3 separate regions of the Homo sapiens genome follow, and regions 2 and 3 are each linked to region 1. Evidence: fine-mapped expression QTL. A gene starts in region 1. Each other region holds a variant in brackets. All regions are shown on one strand. Distances are between the middles of the regions.

Region 1 (2,756 bases):
TGCCTGTTGGCCAACTGGCTCTGGCGGGAAGACACCCACGATCTTCCCTATCATCACTGGACTGATTTCAGTTTCTGGAAGGAGCCATGCTCTTCCTCTTTCTCAGCCTTTGCACTTGCTGTTCCCCCCACCAGGAACATTCTTTCTGTACTTCATGTCACCCCAACCGGCTCTACCTGACTCATGCACTCTTTATTTATTTATTTATTTATTTTTGAGACGGAGTTTCATGCTTGTTGCCCAGGCTGGAGTGCAATGGCGCGATCTCCGGCTCACCGCAATCTCCGCCTCCTGGGTTCAAGCAATTCTCCTGCCTCAGCCTCCCGAGCAGCTGCGATTACAGGCCACCACACCCAGCTAATTTTGTATTTTTAGTAGAGACGGGGTTTCTCCATGTTGGTCAGGGTGGTCTCGAACTCCCAATCTCAGGTGATCCACCTGCCTTGGCCTCCCAAAGTGCTGGGATTACAGGTGTGAGCCACTGCGCCCGGCTCACTCACTTTTTAGATCTTTGCTGCAACATCCCCTCCTCCAGGAAGCCCTCCCGGATGCCCCCAGCCTGGGTCAGGTGCCTCCTGTGAGCCCCCTCACTGCCCTGTGCCCTCTGCATCACCCATTGCACCCCAACCACACCATGTCACCATTACCTGGTCACATGTTTGTGTCCACCCGCAGCCACCAGGGCATAGATGGTACCACCTTTGCTCTCCAGTGTGCCCAGTACAAAGTAGGTACTCAACACATGATTCTTAAATGAGTCCTCCAGGCCACCAGCCCCATTGACCTTGAGCAGGACCTGTCCTGCAGAATGCAGAACCTCCAGTTGGATGATACTCAGATAACTTGGCCGGACGCAGTGGCTCACGCCTGTAATCCCAGCACTTTGGGAGGCCGAGGCGGTCAGATCACCTGAGGTCAGGAGTTCGGGACCAGCCTGACCAACATGGAGAAACCCCGTCTCTACTAAAAAATACAAAAATTTGCTGGGTGTGGTGGCGGGCGCCTGTAATCCCAGCTACTAGGGAGGCTGAGGCAGGAGAATCGCTTGAACCCAAGAGGCGGAGGTTGCAGTGAACCGAGATTGCGCCACTGCACTCCAGCCTGGGCAACAGAGCGAGGCTCCGTCACACACACACACACACACACACACACACACACAAATGAGATATTCAGGTAACTCTGCGTGGCATTCAAAACCCTTAGGCTGGGGTCCCTGCTGTCCGGCTCTGTCCTTACGGAATTTACTAATCCGTAAAAGGGGTTGTGGGGACATGGATAGCCTGTGTCCCGCATTTTAGAGGTGACTGGAGAACTCTCACGTAGGCGGCCGCCCCAATTTCCCGCCCGGGTCATCGGGGAGCCCCTTCCCAAGCCCCGCAAACACCTGCATGCAAAGAGGCAGGCTTCCTTCTGACAGCAGATAACATGTCGCCTGCGGCGTCAGCAAGAGGCGCATGCGCCTTGCCGTGGGAGGCCGGGTGCGCAGGACTGGAACGCGGTTCCTCCTTCTTCCCCGCCCCGCCCCGCTTCCGGCGGAAGCGGCCTCAACAAGGGAAACTTTATTGTTCCCGTGGGGCAGTCGAGGATGTCGGTGAATTACGCGGCGGGGCTGTCGCCGTACGCGGACAAGGGCAAGTGCGGCCTCCCGGAGGTGAGCGCGTCTGAGGGTCCCGAGCATCGCGCCCCAGGGCCGCGGGCTGGGAGCGGCCGGATGGCAGGGGGGCATTGTGGGAATATCAGGGGGCACTGAGGCTAGACAATGGGAGGGACTTCCCAGTGAGGAAGGGGCGGGAAGTGACGCCCCTGCGCGCCGGGGGACGCCAACACGCCCAACTCTGTGGTCACCCTGTCGGGGCTGATCGGGGAGAGAGGGGATGTAGTTCCAGGAAGAGGGGACGACAGGCGCAAAGGGAGGTGGGAATAAACACACCTGGAGAACGATTAGGCCTGGGAGGTTTCCAGAGCCGGGCCAGGACGGGGCTCAAATGCCAGGCTGGGGAGTTGGCACTTTATCCTGAGGGTGATGGGGAAGGGTTTTGCCCTGGCGAGGGGACTGGACAGAATGTGCCAGAAAGATCCCTCCAGCCACTCAGAGGGGAAGTGGAGGGATCGGCTGCCCCCTCCACGCACTGTGGGACTTTGGGGAAGTCACTTCCCTTTTGGGTCTCCATCTCCAAACTTTCTGCAAACGAGGTGAAGATGGCCCCATTCCATAAGGCTGGCCCATGCATTCTGACTCATGCATTTAATGAGCGCTGATGGTGTGCGCCCGTCCAGAAGCCCCACTCTTCACTGCTGCTGTTAGTCACTTTATTATTATTATTATTATATTTTTGAGATGGAGTTTCTCTGTCGCCCAGGCTGGAGTGCAGTGGCGCGATCTCGGCTCACTGCAACCTCCGCCTCCTAGGTTCAAGCGATTCTCCTGCCTCAGCCTCCTGAGTAGAGTAGATGAGACTACAGGCACCTGCCACCACGCCTGGCTAATTTTTGTATTTTTAGTAGAGGCGGGGTTTCACCATGTTGGCCAGTCTGCTCTTGAACTCTTGATCTCAAGTGATCCACCCACCTTGGCTTCCCAAAGTGCTGGGATTATAGGCGTGAGCCACCATACCCGGCCTGTTAGTCACTTTATTCCACCAACATTTATAGAGCACTTACTGTAGCTCAGGCACTTTCTAGGTACTAAGGCCACAGCCAGGAGCAACACAGATTAAAAACCCCTCCTTCTAGTAAGGGAGACTGACTAGGGGTTG
Region 2 (2,756 bases), 28 kb before region 1:
GATTGTTTTTGTTTGTTGTTGTTGTGGTTGTTGTTGTTGAGATGGAGTCTTGCTCTGTCACCCAGGCTGGAGTGCAGTGGTGTGATCTTGGCTCACTGCAACCTCTGCCTCCCGGGTTCAAGCAATTCTCCTGCCTCAGCCTCCCAAGTAGCTGGAATTACAGGCCCCTGCCACCATGCCCAGCTAATTTTTTTTTTGTATTTTTAGTAGAGACAGGGTTTCACTATGTTGGCCAGGCTGGTCTCGAACTCCTGACCTCAAGTGATCTGCCCACCTCAACCTCCCAAAGTGCTGGGATTACAGGTGTGAGCCACCGTGCCCAGCCAGAAAGTTTTTACTGGGTGCCTCTTATGGGGCAGACCTGGTTTTGGCCATTCATTCATACACTCACTTGAATATTCACTCACCCAATCAATATTGACGACGCCCATACTGTGACCCAGGCACCATCAGCCATGCCTGCCCTCGCAGGCTCACAGTCAAATGGGTGGACACACATAAAACAGATGCATGCCCAATAGCAGCAAGTGATGCAAATGGAGATAAAGAGGCCGGGTGCGGTGGCTCACACCTGCAATCCCAGCACTTTAGGAGGCCGCGGCGGGAGGATCACCTGAGGTCAGGAGTTAGAGACCAGCCTGGCCAATGTGCTGAAACCCCGTCTCTACTAAAAATACAAAACTAGCTGGATGTGGTGGTGGGCGCCTGTAATCCCAGCTGCTTGGGAGACTGAGGCAGGAGAATCGCTTGAACCCGGGAGGCGGAGGTGGCAATAAGCCGAGATCGTACCATTGCATTCTAGCCTGGGCAACAAGAGCGAGACTCCGTCTCAAAAACAAAACAAAACCAAAAATAAATAAAAAAAAAATAAAGTGAACTAGCGAGTTGGCCGGGGGGGTGGTGGGGGGTGATGTTACAATTTTGAAGAAAGTGGGCATGGGAAGTGGGCATGGGAAGTGGGCATGGGAAGTGTCTTTGGCGAGGAGCCTACTGCATAAAGTAGGTGAGGTAAAGAGCTGTGGGGCCATCTGGGGCTAGAGCATTCCAGGCAGAGGACACAGGTGGTGCAAAGGCCCTGAGGCAGGACTGCGCTAGAGCATTCCAGGCAGAGGACACTGGTGGTGCAAAGGCCCTGAGGCAGGACTGCGCCTGGCGAGTTGGAGGAACAGCGAGGAGGCCCAGGTGGCTGCAGCAGGGTGGGGAGGGAGAGAGATGGAGGAGGGAAGGTGGGAGAAAAGTAGGGGGATCTTCATGCCTGCATTGACCCCACCCAGGCTGGCCCACGCCCAAATCTCCGAGGCCTCCTAACCTCCTGCTGCCTC[C/T]GTTCCTTGTGCTGTTCCAGGCCCCGGATCTTCTGCAGGAGGCGGCCCCTCTCCTGCCGCAGCCTCACGATCTCCTCATAGGCATCTCGATCATCCTGTTCCCCTCCCCACCACGGCCTTTAGATGGGGCCTAAGGTTGCCCCATCCCAGGTCTCAGCCAGAGCCCCTCCCCGTGCCTGGGGGCTCCCCATGCCTCCTCCCGTGCCCAGAGCATCTCTCACCGGCATGGGAATGCTGGCGGGAGGTGGAGGCGCCTTCCGCTTCTTGGGGGCCCCCTGCTTTCCATGGCTGGACATAGAGTTCTGGGAAGGGAGGGGAGAGAGAGTGAAGGGGGCCGATCGGGGGGCCATGCCAGCCTCCCCCACAGTAAACCAACCCAGCCAGCCCCAGCCATGGCCTGACTTCCTGAGAACATGGAACCAGCAGCCCCTGCCTCCTGCCGCTTACTTATCCCAGCAAAGCGCAGACAAGACCAACTCCCTGTAAGTTCCAGATCTTACTCTTTACTCTCTGCTCCTCTCTGTCTCTCAGTTCTTTCCCCAGCTAGACCACATTGCCCACACGTTTTCACTCCTCTGTGGAACAGAGATGCTTTAAAACTGGGAGAGGGGCCAGCGCGGTGGCTCACACCTGTAATCCCAGCACTTTGGGAGGCCAAGGTGGGTGATCACTTGAGGTCAGGAGTTCGAGAGCAGCCTGGACAACACAGAGTGAAACCCCGACCCTACTAAAAATACAAAAAATTAGCTGGGCATGGTGGCGCACGCCTGTAGTCCCAGCTACTAGGGAAACTGAGGCAGGAGAATCACTTGAACCTGGGAGGCAGAGGTTGCAGTGAGCCAAGATCACGCCATTGCACTCCAGCCTGGGTGACAGGGCGAGACTCCATCTCTCAAAAAATAAACAAAACAAACAAACAACAACAACAACAAAAAAAAAAAACTAGGAGAGGGGTCGCGCTCAGTGGCTCATGCCTGTAATCCCAGCACTTTGGGAGGCCGAGGCGGGTGGGTCACTTGAGGCCAGGAGTTTGAGACCAGCCTGGCCAACAGGGTGAAACCCCATCTCTACTAAAAATACAAAAATTAGCCAGTTGTGGTGGGTGCCTGTAATCCCAGCTACTAGGGAGGCTGAGGCAGGAGAATCGCTTGAACCCAGGGGGTGAAGGTTGCAGTGAGCCAAGATCGAGCCACTGTACTCCAGCCTGGGCGACAGAGTGAGACTCCACCTCGGGGAAAAAAAACACAAAAAAACTGAAAGAGGGGAAGAGGCCAGATCTGCTTCCTTCCCCGAAGACACCAACCCTCAACAACCTCAGTCCCCACTGCCCTCCCACCCCAGCCCCATAATTTGGCCCCATCCAGTATTCTCACCCAGTTCTGGGAGTTAGGCTGAGCACACTGCCGCCACTTGGTGGCAGCATACCCTGAAGGT
Region 3 (2,756 bases), 130 kb before region 1:
CGCCCGCCTAAGCCTCCCAAAGTGCTGGGAGTACAGGTGTGAGCCACCACGCCCGGCCCAGGAGGCTTTCCCCCTTCAGACCCTACCTCCACCAGCTGGGTGGATTCCTTGGGTTTTGTTTTTTTTTTTCTTTATTTTTCTCTCTTTGTTTAGTAGAGACAGGGTCTCGCTCTGTTGCTCAGGCTGGAGTGCGGTGGTGCAGTCATGGCTCACTGCAGCCTCCAATTCTTGGGCTCAAACAATCCTCCCACCTTAGCCTCCCTTGGTAGCGGGGACCACCATGCTCAGGTAACTTTAAATTTTTTTTTTTTTTATAGATGGGCTCTTGCTTTGTTACCCAAGCTGGTCTCCAGCTCCTGGCCTCAAGCAATCCTCTTGCCTCAGCCTCCCAAAGTGCTGTATCACAGGCTTGAGCCACCATGCCTGGCCAGCTTTCAATTTCTTGTAACTGCCAAGGAGGACCCCAAATACTTGGAGGGTGAATCCAGAACGCCAGCTCTAGGAGGGAAAAGATTATTGTCTGCTTTGTTCCCTGCTCCGAGGACAGTACACAGCTATTTGGGAGGCTGAGGCAGGACTGCTTGAGGCCAGGGGTTGGAGACCAGCCTAGGGAAATGGCAGGATCCCATGTCTGGAAAAATATATTCATTATTATTATTTATTTATTTATTTATTTATTTATTTATTTTTTGAGACGGAGTCTTGCTCTGTCGCCCAGGCTGGAGTGCAGTGGCGCAATCTAGGCTCACTGCAAGCTCCGCCTCCCGAGTTCACGCCATTCTCCTGCCTCAGCCTCCTGAGCAGCTGGGACTACAGGTGCACACCGCCACGCCCGGCTAATTTTTTGTATTTTTTTAGTAGATACAGTATTTCACCGTGTTAGCCAGGATGGTCTCGATCTCCTGACCTTGTGATCGGCCCGCCTCGGCCTCCCAAAGTGCTGGGATTACAGGCGTGAGCTACCGCGCCCGGCCTATATTCATTATTATTATTTTTTGTTTTTTTGAGATGAGTTTCGCTTTTGTTGCCCAGGCTGGAGTGCAATAGCGCGATCTCGGCTCAGTGCCATCTCCACCTTCCGGGTTCAAGCAATTCTCCCGCCTTAGCCTCCTGAGTAGCTGGGATTACAGGTGCCCGATACCATGCCCGGCTAATTTTTTTGTATTTTTAGTAGAGATAGGGTTTCACCATGTTGGCCACGCTGGTCTTGAACTCCTGACCTCAGGCGATCCACCCGCTTCAGCCTCCCAAAGTGCTGGGATTACAGGCATGAGCCACCGCGCCTGGCCACTGTCTCATATTTCTGATCC[A/G]CCTCCCCAGGCTGCTTCCAGACCCCATGAGCTTTGGGGATCGTCCCCAAGGCCCCCAGTGACTGATGGCGAGACGGGAGGCTGGAAGAGGTGGCTGTTCACAGCTGGGCGGAGCTGGCACACACTGCCCTTACCTGTCAGGGTGTACTCTGTCTGCCGGATGCCCTCGATGACCATCCAGGGCTGGTCCTCCTTGAGGCGGGGCGGGCCCTCGAAGTTGGTCCGCCGGTACTCCAGCACGTAGTGGTCAATCTTGCTGTCCTCATCCGGCATGCGCCACACCAGGGTCACACAGTTATCTGCCACCAGGGACTCAGCCAGGTCGATCACGGGTGCGCTGGGCACTGACCAAGACGGAAAGGAGAGGGGGTCGGGATTCTGTGCCTGGTTCAGGGGGCAGGGGGCTTGCTGCAGGGCTGCCCAACCACATGTTGGACAATTTTGGGGGCATGGCCACAAAGGGGTTCCATGTTTGGCAGGGTGGAGACTTTTTTTTTTTTAGAGACAGAGTCTTGCTCTTGTCACCCAGGCTGGAGTGCAGTGGCACGATCTTGGCTCACTGCAACCTCCGACTCCCTGGTTCAAGCGATTCTCCTGCCTCAGCCTCCTGAGTAGCTGGGATTACAGTCGTGAGCCACCATGGCCCGGCTAATTTTTTATATTTTTAGTAGAGACAGGGTTTCTCCATGTTGGCCAGGCTGGTCTTGAACTCCTGACCTCAAGTGATCCACCCGCCTCGGCCTCCCAAAGTGCTGGGATTCCAGGCGTGAGTCACCGCGCCCGGCCATGGAGACGCTAAGGTTCCATCAGTGGGTTGGGGGAGGGCTGAGCTTTCTTGGGATTCCATCATTTACAGGCAGAATTATTCCAAAATCTCTGCCAATGAGGGATGCGGCTTTCTTTGGGGCTGCATCATAGACAGGCTGGGTTCTCAGTCCATTTCTCCTCGGGGACGTGGCCTTCTCAGGGCTCCACCCCTGGAAACAGGGTTTTCCCAGGAGCTACCATGTGGTGGGCAGGCCCTTCTCGTGGCTCTATCCAGGGAGGAGGTCTCGGGAGGACTCCACTCCCCCAACGACATGGTATTCTCAGGGCTCCACCCCTGTGGACAGAGTTTTCCCAGGACCTCACCCCCTGGTGGGTGGGGCTTTCTGATGGCTCCACCCATGGGCGGGACTTGATGAATACCCCACCCCCACAGGACGTGCTATTCTCAGGGCTCCACCCCTGGGGACAGGATTTTCCCACCTGGTGAGTTTGACCTTCTCATGGCTCCACCCCAGGGCGGGGCCTCATGAGGACTCAACCAACCCCACAGGACATGGTATTCTCACAGTTCCACCCCTGGGTACAGAGTTTTCCCAGGATGTCACTACACAGTGGGTGGGGTCTTCCCATGGCTCCACCCAGGGGCGGGGCTCCATGAGAACTCCACCCCCCACAGGG

Evidence for each region.
Region 2: its variant is fine-mapped to the expression of ANKRD24 in transverse colon (GTEx, PIP above 0.99).
Region 3: its variant is fine-mapped to the expression of ANKRD24 in atrial appendage (GTEx, PIP 0.99). The same link has a PIP of 0.9 or more in gastroesophageal junction.

The regions. Positions count from the first base shown.
Region 1 is chr19:4,181,369-4,184,124 of GRCh38, reverse strand. It overlaps ANKRD24 (ankyrin repeat domain 24), which reads right to left and starts at 1,436. Exons shown (of 22, transcript NM_001393985.1): 1 at 1,385-1,436. SIRT6 (sirtuin 6) reads left to right here and starts at 1,562. Exons shown (of 8, transcript NM_016539.4): 1 at 1,562-1,651. The coding sequence starts at 1,586. RefSeq lists enhancers at 1,379-1,428, 1,499-1,588.
Region 2 is chr19:4,208,926-4,211,681 of GRCh38, reverse strand. ANKRD24 (ankyrin repeat domain 24) reads right to left here. Exons shown (of 22, transcript NM_001393985.1): 12 at 1,544-1,624; 13 at 1,310-1,417. Among named protein-coding and RNA genes, the nearest start is that of EBI3, 19 kb to the left of the region's middle. The variant C/T (reference allele first, on the strand shown) is at 1,323.
Region 3 is chr19:4,310,740-4,313,495 of GRCh38, reverse strand. It overlaps FSD1 (fibronectin type III and SPRY domain containing 1), which reads right to left. Exons shown (of 13, transcript NM_024333.3): 7 at 1,445-1,654. Among named protein-coding and RNA genes, the nearest start is that of FSD1, 7.5 kb to the right of the region's middle. The variant A/G (reference allele first, on the strand shown) is at 1,311.